2 separate regions of the Homo sapiens genome follow, and region 2 is linked to region 1. The links come from fine-mapping of genetic effects on plasma protein levels. Region 1 holds a variant in brackets. A gene starts in the other region. All regions are shown on their reverse strands. Region 1 has its middle 20 kb from the start of TENT5C-DT. Region 2 holds the start of GAL (galanin and GMAP prepropeptide).

The links. PIP is the chance, under the fine-mapping model, that this variant and not a neighbour inherited with it causes the effect. The UK Biobank Pharma Proteomics Project read protein levels with antibody pairs (Olink). The fine-mapping took linkage between variants from a reference panel, not from the people measured, so its PIPs are less certain.
Region 2: it holds the start of GAL, and the variant in region 1 is fine-mapped to the plasma level of the GAL protein (UK Biobank, PIP 0.91).

Annotation. Positions count from the first base shown.
Region 1 is chr1:117,582,582-117,587,959 of GRCh38, reverse strand. No RefSeq gene overlaps it. Among named protein-coding and RNA genes, the nearest start is that of TENT5C-DT, 20 kb to the left of the region's middle. The variant G/A (reference allele first, on the strand shown) is at 2,437.
Region 2 is chr11:68,679,390-68,684,767 of GRCh38, reverse strand. GAL (galanin and GMAP prepropeptide) reads right to left here and starts at 224. Exons shown (of 6, transcript NM_015973.5): 1 at 36-224. All of the region lies in intron 2 of LOC107984343 (a long non-coding RNA gene), which reads left to right. RefSeq lists enhancers at 1-153, 830-1,505.

The DNA of each region.
Region 1 (5,378 bases):
CAATTATAGCTATAAATAACCACTTGATCTGTGGCTCAGCACCTGACTCAAAGAGAGCCATCTATAGGCTCATGATGATGATGCCAGAGACCTGCGAGTGGCCTGACACAGAACTCAGAGCCAGAAAGAAATGATCGCCCCAGCTACGTGCTCTTGAGGAGTACCGCTGTGGGTTGAATGGGGAGGACCAAGGCGGCTGAGGTGGCTAAGCTTTGCTCCTGCTCCCCACATCCTGCTGGCAGCCCCCAAAAGTGCCTGAGTGCACCTCTTGTCCTTGCACCCTGAAAGCACCAAACAGAACAGAGCACACACTGCCACGAGCTGGGTGGGGGCCGGGTGCTGCTGGGCTGCACAGGCGGCTTCTCCAAGGCTTTCTGTGACAATTGCCCAGAGCGACCACACGGACCAAAATTTGCCCAGAAATTCTTCAGCGCAGTGAAAGCCTGCAAGCACTGGGTGGTAAATGACAGGACTGGAGACCACAGAAAGCCACAGGAAAATTCTTGTCAGGGCCAGCAGCAGACACGAGGAGTGAGAGGCTGTGAATGGCTGCCTGGTTGGGAGGGATGAGCAAAGCCACCGGAGCTCAGCGAGGTGGTATGGAAAGCAAACGGAGAAACGATGGAACAATGCCTGGAATCCCCACATGGTGGCTGGCAGGGAAAGGGGAACTGTGCAACCAGATGTTTGCTTTGCCTCCTGGACAGAAAGCACTCCACATGGAAACTTTCGTGGCCCTGTGAGGTCAGAATCCATGAGCAGCCCCTCTTCCACAGAGCAAGATGGTGGGGTCCGCCAGCCAGACCCTCTGTGACCACTTGTGAGGCCCACTGGCTAGAGGGCAGCACCACAGCACAGTCCTTGGCCTCTCCCTCTTGGGTTCCCACTTCTGGATTGGACAAAGTCGGACAACAAACCATTTTCTCTCCAAGTTTACAGACCTGGCTCTAGAAAGAGGACCCACGGGAAGGGAGCCATGGCCAACCGGAGGCCGGGAAATGTTTCCCTTGGTCTGCGGTGGGGGCTGATGTTGGCGTGCTTCCTTCTTGTCCACAACAGGATGGCACAAGTGAGAGCAAACAAAACAGAAGCCAATGCAAAGGGCTTCTTGGCCTTCCTCAGTGAGAACAACCCAGGAATCAAGGCCAGGAATAAGAGAGGGGCTCCTGGGTTTGAAGTGGGGACCAGGAGACCTTATGGGAAAGCTAGCTAGCTCCTGGGTCCTGCTAAGTCTGACAGTGACTTGTGTAAATAAAGGGCAGACAGTGTTGAGGGCTTCTGTGTATGGGGTTCATGTGTGTTTTGTCTACCCCAATCCTCTCCTTGACTTCAGCTGTCAGGACTAAGCACCTCTTCTCCCCAGTAGGCCACAGCACACCTCCTTGGAGACCCTTCTCCTTCTTCATACTGTATATGTCAGGTTGGCTGTGATAACAAGCAACCCCAAAGTCTCAGTGGCTCACAACTATGAGCATTTGTTTGTCACTGACATCACAGTGAGTGGGCAGGCCATTCTAATGGCAGCGGATAAAGCAAGCATGGTGGTGGTACAGCTTCTGCTGAGACCTAGCATATGTCATGTGCTTTCACATTCTGTGAGCTGAAGCATGCCATGCAATGAAGCCCAAAGTCAAAGGGGTGAGGATGTGTATCACTTTCAATGGGAACGAGGGCATGAATAATTGCAAACAGCAATACAGTCTACTTCCCAGCCAACAGACCTTTCTATAGCTCAGCAGTCTCCTCTGTGCAAGTTTGTTTTGTTCTTGTAAGAATCTTAGGAAATAATAGCAATATCAGCCAGGTGTGGTGACTCACTCCTGTAATCCCAGCACTTTGGGAGGCTGAGACGGGTGAATCACGAGATCAGGAGTTCGAGGCCAGCCTGGCCAACATGGTGAAACCCCGTCTCTACTAAAAATACAAAATTAGCCAGGCATGGTGGTGGGCGCCTGTAATCCCAGCTACTCAGGAGGCTGAGGCAGGAGAATCGCTTGAACCCAGGAGGCAGAGGTTGCAGTTAGCCGAGACTGTGCCATTGCATCCAGCCTGGGTGACACGGTGAGACTCTGTCTCACAAAAAAAAAAAAAAAAATAGCAATATCAATGGTAATTAATATTTACTAGCCCCTTTCTTTATGCCAGGTGTGGTTCTGAGTGTTTTGTAGGCATTATTTGAGTAACCCTTGCAGCCCGATGAGGTAGAGACCACTGGTATCCCCATTACACATACTAGAAAACAGACTGAACAGTTTAGTGACTTGACCAGCAGCTAAGGATCTAAAGGTATCAAAGGCTGCACTTATAACCCCAACATTAATCTGCTTTTTCCTATGAGGTAGGATTGGGCCTGGGGAGGGGTAGTGGCCCCATTTGGCAGATATACAAACTGAGGCTCAGAAAAGGGATTTGACTCATCCAAAGATATATATCTTA[G/A]AACAGAACTTAACACCCTGGTATCTAGGCCGAGTCCCTGAGTCCCTTTTCTATCCACCCACTGGCCTCCTGGAGCCCTCCTGCCTGCCCTGGCTTTCAAAGGCTTCAGGGCTGTCTTCTGCTCAGCAACTCCTCCCCAACTGCAGGCCTGGGGCACTGTCATCCAGCACTGCAGAGTCTCGCTCTTTGGTGCCCAGCATCGACCACTCCCCACGCTGGAGCCTGTTGTCATCCCAAATATGAGGGGTCAATGCATCCTCTGCACATGGAGCTATGCGGAGTGAGGCCCAGTGACTGCACTATCCCCATCTGTCTCCCTTTCCCTAAGAGGCAACCAGGGTGGTGAAGAAGCCCAGGCCCCGGAGTCAGACATACTCCTGCTCGAGTCCTGGCTCTACTACTGATGACTCGAGGCAGGTTCCTCGACTTCTCTAAACTTTTCTTTCCTTGGCTGTAACATAAGAGCCCCAGAGCTTGGAGTACAGCATCCACTGCAGAGTAACTGGCCTTCCTTTCATCCTTCAGTCCCTTCAATCCAAATCCTGCTGAATTTCTTTGGCCAAAACACTTTCATACCTCTTACTTGCCACCCCCATTTCCCCATCCCTCCTTCTTGGGTCTGAGTTACTTCCACTGCCCACTCAGACAGGTTCATGCCAAGGTGTGAAATCAGGTGGAGGCACATTCCCATCTGCACTCCAACAAAGAACCCAAATGGGCTGGCTCTCTGTGCTCGCCACATGGACACTCACACACACACATTCCCACACACATGCACACACATGCACACATATGCACACATGTATATACATTTATACATATATACACACATACACATGCACATATCCATGTAAACTAACATGTATACACACATGCATACACAAACATACATATGCATACACATACATACACCCATACAGGCACATATCCATGTAAACTCGCATGCATACACAAACATATACACATATGCGTACAAACACAGATACATGCACACACATACAGACATGCAAATACCATGCTCACATGTATATGCACATACTCATGTACACACAAACACATGCATGCATGAACACCAACACACACATACACATTCATATACATATACACAAACATGCATGTGCAAACATGCACATGAACACACACATATACAGGTACACACAAACGCATGCACATGCACACGTGTACATACATGTACACACCAACCCAAATATGCACATGTACATACACACAAACACACACATACTCACAAACACATATACAGTTGACCTTTGAATAACACGAACTTGCACTGGCGAGGGTCGACTTTTACACAAATTTTCTTCTGCCTCTGCCACTCCTGAGACTGCAAAACCAACCCCTCCTCTTCCTTCTCCTCCTCCTCCTCAGCCTACACAACATGAAGACAATGAGGATGAAGACCTTCATGATGATCCACTTCCACTTAATGAATAGTAAATATTTCCTCTCCTATAATTTTCTTAGTAACACTGTCTTTTCTCTAAAGTACTTTATTGTAAAAATACAGTATCTAATATGTGTTAACCAACTGTTTATGTCATTGATAAGACTTCCTGTCAACAGTAGGCTATTAGTACTTAAGTTTTGGGGGAATGATATCGTTTGGCTGTGTCCTCACTCAAATCTCACTTTGAATTATAATAATCTCCACGTGTTAAGGGCGGGGCCAGGTGGAGATAATTGAATCATGGGGCGGTTTCCTACATACTGTTCTCATGGTAATGAATAAGTCTCACAAGATCTAATGGTTTTATAAAGGAGAGTTCACCTGCAGAAGCTCTCTTGCCTGCCACCATGTAAGATGTGACTTTGCTCCTCCTTGCCTTCTGCCATGATTGTGAGGCCTCCCCAACCACGTGGAACGGTGAGTCAATTAAGCCTCTTTCCTTTATAAATTGCCCAGTCTTGGATATGTCTTAATTAGCAGCGTGAGAACAGACTAATACAGGGTGTCACAAGTTATATGTGGATATTCGAGTGCACGTGGGTCAGTGCTCCAACTTGTGTTGTCCAAGGGTCAACTCTATACATATACATATACTCATGCATATATGCACACACACCCACAAACATATACATATACACATACTTATGCACAAACACACACGCACCTTCCTTACTTGCACAGCTACAGGGTGGGGGGTGGCTTGTGGGACCTGTAGTGCTGTCTGTCCAGCCAGTTCCTCCTTGGAGGGTAGGTGCCCTTCTGAGGGCAGGGCCTTGTTCATTGCGGAGCCCCATGCTGCTCCCACAGCCAGAGGACCCCAGCATGAAGACTACCCTTGGTTGTCAAGTCCTACCCTCAGCTCCATCTTGCAGGTGAGGAAACTGAGGCCCAGAGAATAACAATAGGTAACACACAGTGCTCACAGTATGCCAGGCAGAGTTCTAAGCTCTTTGTATGTATGAACCCATTTAACACTTACGACCATACAATGAGGTACCTATTATTATCCTTGTTTTCCAAAGGAGGAAACTGAGGCATGGAGGGGTCATTGGTTAGTGGTCACACAGCCAGTGGTACAGTGGGATTTAGGCCCACTGGCTGCAGTGCCTCCGCTCCTGCCCACTGAGCTGTGCTGCTTATCTGCCACCAGCTATATGTGTGCGTTGGGCAGAGGGACTTAGAGCAGCAGAGCAAGAGCTCCATCCCAGCCCTCTGACCCTGGGCTGCCTCACTCTGCTGTCTCACCTGGCTGAGATGCCTGCTACCAGGCCACATGGTAGATAGGAGGGCCTGGGGTGCAGTGGGGTGCTCCACTCCATCCTCCCCCACTGCCCACAGCTCCTGAGAAGCAAGGCCAGCATCAGAGAAGCCAGAGCAGGCCGGACGCCTGGCGTCTTTGGCAGGCTCACTCACATTCTCCTGGCTGTGCTCTTTTGGACTTGATTTAAGTTTAATTCCAGCTGGAATGACTGGAAAT
Region 2 (5,378 bases), not on the chromosome of region 1:
CCGGGGGCGCAGGGTCGGCCCGGCGCCAGTAGTACCTTGAGCTGCGGCTGCGCCCGGGTTCGGAGCGTCGGGGTCCGGGTGCGGTGGCGGGTCTGGGCGGCAGGTCCGGGCGTCGGGCCGGGTCGGGTGGGCTCTGGCGGCCTGGGGCGCTCACCGCATGGCGCGGCCGGCAGCAGGGGCAGAAGGCGCGGGCCGGGTCCCTCCACGTGTCCGCCGCCCGGTGTGGCCGCCGCCACCGCCGCCGCTGCTATATATGCGGCGCACCCGGGAGCCGCCCGGAGTCGCGTCACCGGCTCAGCGCCCGCCTCCTGCACCCTCGCCGAGCCCCGAGGGCGACGGGAGTGACCCGAGCTCGGGTCCTCTGGGCCATCATAGGCGGGTGCGGCGGAGAGCCCCCCCTCATCCCGCGGGAGAGACTCCCCCAAATCTGCAGAGAGAACCCCAAACCCTGTGGGAGAGACCCTAATCCCGAAAGACAGAGCCCAATCGCCCCGCGGGAGAGCCCCCAGACCCGTGGCCCAAGTCATCGCTGTGGCGTCAACCCCACTGCTCCCCCCGGGGTCCCAGCCCCAGAGCAAGCCTGACCCCCCACAACGTCCCACGCCTGCGGTCTCCCTGCAGCTTCTCCTCCCAGCCCCTACCGCTGCAAAAGCCAGCTGAGCTCCGCAGCACTGGAGACCCCAGAGGGTGACGGGCAGGGACGACTCCTCAGTCCGAGCCAGCCCCAGCTGGGAGGTCATGGGGTACCCGGGGAATGGCGGGCAACACTTGGCCCTGCGCCCTGGCCGGCTTGTGCTGGGGCTGGAGCGAAGGTTCAGGCCTCGGGAGCCGTCGATGGCGGGGAGGGCAGGCGTTCCCGGCTCCCTGTGCCCAGCGACCTCCCTCCTGTTTCACTAAAGGGGGGCTGTGGATCTCAGGGTCTGCTTGGCCATCCCATTGTGGGAGCTGCGGGACCGTCGAGCATCCACAGGCACCAGCTCAGAAGCTCGGCCTCTCAGTGCCTCCCCTGGCTGCCTGGTCCAGTTGTAAGAGGGAGCTTTAAGCAGGTCCAGCCATTGGGCAACTGGTTAGGTCCAGAGGGAGAGCAGCCCAGACTCCCAGAGGCCGCCAAGGGGTGGGCGGTGGGCAGAGCAGCAGCAAGAGGCTGTCCTTGTGCCCAAGGCAAAGACATCCCACAGGAACAAGGCCCTCCTTGGCTCCTCCACAAACCCTTCCTGAGCTGGGGCCAAGTCCCGAAACAACCCAGGAGAGAACCCAAGCCTAGGCTGTTCCTTCACCCCATTCCCAGGCATCAGGGGAGCACAGGATCCCAGGCATCACACTTGTACAGTGTGGCACCTCCGGGCTTCCGAAGAGCACGGGGTCATCTGCTGAAAACTCGCCTGACCTCCCCTCCCACTGGCCAGACACCACCCAAGTCCTCAACAGCAGCAGCTGGGTTAGGATCTCCCCACCCACTGGGCTCAATATCAGATGGGTTGATGTCACATCTGTGGGTTGATGTCCACAGGGCACAGGACGAATGATGATCATGACAGTGTCATCTTACCTGTCCTCTACACTTTAGTCTTGGGAACCTTTGCACAGACAGCTACAGGCTGCCCCCAGGAGAGATCCGTCTGCCTCCACGTGGCTGGGGAAGGACAACTGGGCTTTCAAGAACTCTGGCGAAGGCCAGCGGCTGCTGGAGAAGGTGCAGGGCTGCAGCCTGGTGGCTGAGTGTCTGCTGTGGTTTATGGGAGGAAGAGGAGGAGACAGGACTTGGGGAGGGGTCTTAGGAACAGACTCCTGGCACGACAGTGGTGAGGGGTGGGGTGTTCCCAAGGGCACAGTTTGACTTCTGGTCATCCCTATTTCTTGCAGCCTGGGGAGAGGAGAGTCAGGCACAGGGGACCCTAACTAGGACTCACAGGCTGATTTCGGAGCCCACAGTAAACCCTGAAGTGGTTTCCTGCCGGGAGTGGGGGCGTGGGAGACAGTGAGTCGCCATGAGAGTCTGGGCCAGCCGTGGGCAGAAGGACAGCCGAGAGGCGGAGGAGCAGAGGGCACGTTCCTGTGACTCTGCAGAGAAGTGACAATGATGTCCTCTCATGCCCCATGTCCTTGTGTCTAGATGACATCAGGGAGTGGGCAGGGGCTGGGCTCATGGGTGCCTCTTGGCTACCTGAGAAATACTGCAACCTTTGGCCCCCGGTGGTAGTGGGAGCCCTGCTACCATCCCAGAGCTCTTTCTTGCTTTCTGCTGAGAACAAATCCAGCCCAGTGCATAGCACATCTTAGTCAATTCCAGCCTTCTCCTTTCTTCCACGTTAGGCCCCCTTCCAAATCCTGCCAGAGCTTGACTACACTTATTTTCTCTATTTACTTTGTCACAGAGGCTCTTAGTCTGTTTAAAGGAGCACAAACTCTAAACCTAAATCCTTGAGATGGATTCGAAAAGAGACTCAAAGTCCATCCCTTAGTCATGGGCTGGAATTTGAGGTACATTAAACTTTCAGCTGTCTTCATTTGGGCCTATGTACTCTTTTTGTTTCCTTTTTTGCTTTCAAAGAAACTTCAGACTGGGCGCAGTGGCTCACGCTTGTAATCCCAGCATTTTGGGAGGCTGAGGTGAGTAGATAGATCACTTGAGCCCTGGAGTCCAAGACCAGCTGGGGCAACATAGCAAGGCCTCATCTCTACTAAAAATAAATAAATAAATATTTTTTAAAAATCAGCCAAGCATGATGGCACGTGCCTGTAGTCCCAGCTACTCAGCTCAGGAGGCTGAGGTGGGAGGATCACCTGAGCCCAGGAGGTTGAGGCTACAGTGAGCCACGATCAAGCCTGCACTCCAGCATAGGCAACAGAGCAAGTCTCTGTCAAGAAAGAAAGAAGGAGGGAGGGAGGGAGAGAGAGAGAGAGAGAGAGAGAAGGGAAGAAGAAGAAAGAAGAAGAAGAAGGAGGAGGACGAGGAGGAGAAGGAGAAGAAGAAAAGAGAAGGAAGGAAAGTGAGGAAAGAGAAAGGAAAAAAAGAAAAATAAATTTCAGGCCGGGTGCGGTGGCTCATGCCTGTAATCCCAGCACTTTGGGAGGCCAAGGCGGGTGGATCACAAGGTCAGGAGATCGAGACCATCCTGGCTAACATGGTGAAACCCCGTCTCTACCAAAAATACAAAAAATTAGCCGGGAGTGGTGGCAGGCGCCTGTGGTCCCAGCTATTTGGGAGGCTGAGGCAGGAGAATGGCGTGAACCCAGGAGGCGGAGCTTGCAGTGAGCCTAGATCGTGCCACTGCACTCCAGCCTGGGTGACAGAGCGAGACTCCGTCTCGAAAAACAAAAAACAAAAAACAAACGAAAAAGAAATTTCAGGGTAGGTTATCTGGTCAGAGCCTCCTTATTAAAAAGACATTAAGCAACTGGAAACAAATCTTCACATGTATTTTGAATTCATTTAAGAAAGCTCCATTGAATAATTAGACACATGTATTCAAAATAAACATGCCCATGCCTGATTCCTCCAGGTCCCTAAGTTCTTTTTCCACGTGGGATGACACCCACCGTCTTGCTTCCCGCTTAGTCTGGGTGAGTGGGTCTCGGTATAAACCCTGGCTGGGACCCTGGCCCGGAAGTGCGGTGACCATGGGAAGGCTACAGACAAGCAAGGCAGTGGCCTGAAGGCGTGCTGGGGTTTCCTGAGGTCGGCAGATTCCTTCAGACAAATGAGGCCAGCACACCTGGGATGACAGACACCTGCCTCCCGGCACAGACTGTGCTGGAACCACAGCCAGTGTGCTAATGGCTCTTTGCTCAGTAATGACCCAATGGCAGTCATTGTCAACCTGTCATCTTGAAGACAGCCCAGTGTGCAGCAGACAAAGTGGGTCACCATTAGAGTAATCGAAATCAAGCAGAAAGCCTGATGTCCCCCGCTGCCTTCGAGCCAGCCCATCTTCCTTAGAAGCGCTGTCCACCACCAGGAAAAACCACCCTGAAGCTGAGAACTCAAGCAAGGGTCAAGGGTCACCTGGGCCATGCCCACTGCACGGGAGCTCAACCGTCCATTGCCTGGCAGTGGAGCTGCAGTGGTGAAATCAGCAGCAGGGTCCCTGCCCTTGCGGAGTTAGACCCTCACGGAGACCCATTACAGTTGGCCCCTCTGTATCTGTGAGTTCCCTGGCTGTGGGTTCAACCCACTATGGACTGGGTCCTTGTAGGTAGGCCTAGGATGGGTTTCTCTGTACGAATACGTACAGACTTTTTTCCTTGTCATTATTTCCTAAACAATACGGTATAACAACTATTCATGTAGCATTTACATTATACTCAGTATTATAAGTAATCTAGAGATGATTTAAAGCATGTGGGAGGGCCATCGCGGTGGCTTATGCCTGTAATCACAACACTTTGGGAGGCCGAGGCGGGCAGATCACTTGAGGTCAGGAGTTCGAGACCAGCCTGGCCAACATGCCAAAACCCTCTCTCTACTACATATACAAAAACTCAGCCAGATGTGGTGGCGGACATCTGTAATCCCAGCTACTCGGGACGCTGAGGCAGGAGAATCACTTGTACAACTGAACCCGGGAGGCAGAGGTTGCAGTGAGCCGAAACGGCGCCACTGCACTCCAGCATCTGGGTGACAGAGTGAGACTTCATCTCAAAAATAAAAAAGTTAAATTAAAAATAAAGCATATGGGAAGATGTGCGTAGGTTATATGCAAATACTATGCCATTTTATATAAGGGACTTGAGCATCCACGGATTTCGGTATTTGCGTGGCCAGGGGTTTCCTGGAACCAACCCACTGTGGACATGGAGGGCCAACTGTATGCAACAAATGGTTATTGTACAAATAACCACCCCATTGTCGTGGGAAGGAGATGCATGGATTAGGGGAGCTGAACCTGACAGGTGAGCAGGACTGACTGGGTACAGAATGAGGTCCAGCACACTCCAGGTGGAGGGGGTTACATGGGTACGCCCCCTTTTTGGTCCTTTTCCATTCCTTCTTCCTGCTGCCTGGAGTGTGGACGTGAAGGCTGGAGGTGGGCAACGAATTTGGACCATGAGGTGATGGCTTCAGGTGACACATCAAGGCCGAGGGAGCCTGGGTCCCAGTGACCCTGAGCCTGGTCCCTGGGCTGCACACTTCCAGGCTTGTTTCACAACAGAGGAGAAGAAGCATCTCTCTTATTTAAGCCAATGGCCCATAGAGGTTTTCCATCACGTGCGGTAGGAATTGTTCCAATCAGTTTCACAGTGGTCAACAAATGTTTGATGAATGAATGAATGAATGAATAAAAACACGTGAGAGGGTACACCACCTCCACCGCTGCTGAGAAGCTCATGTCTGCAAGACGGGCTCATCAGAGGGAGAGGTTTGGACGATAACGTGA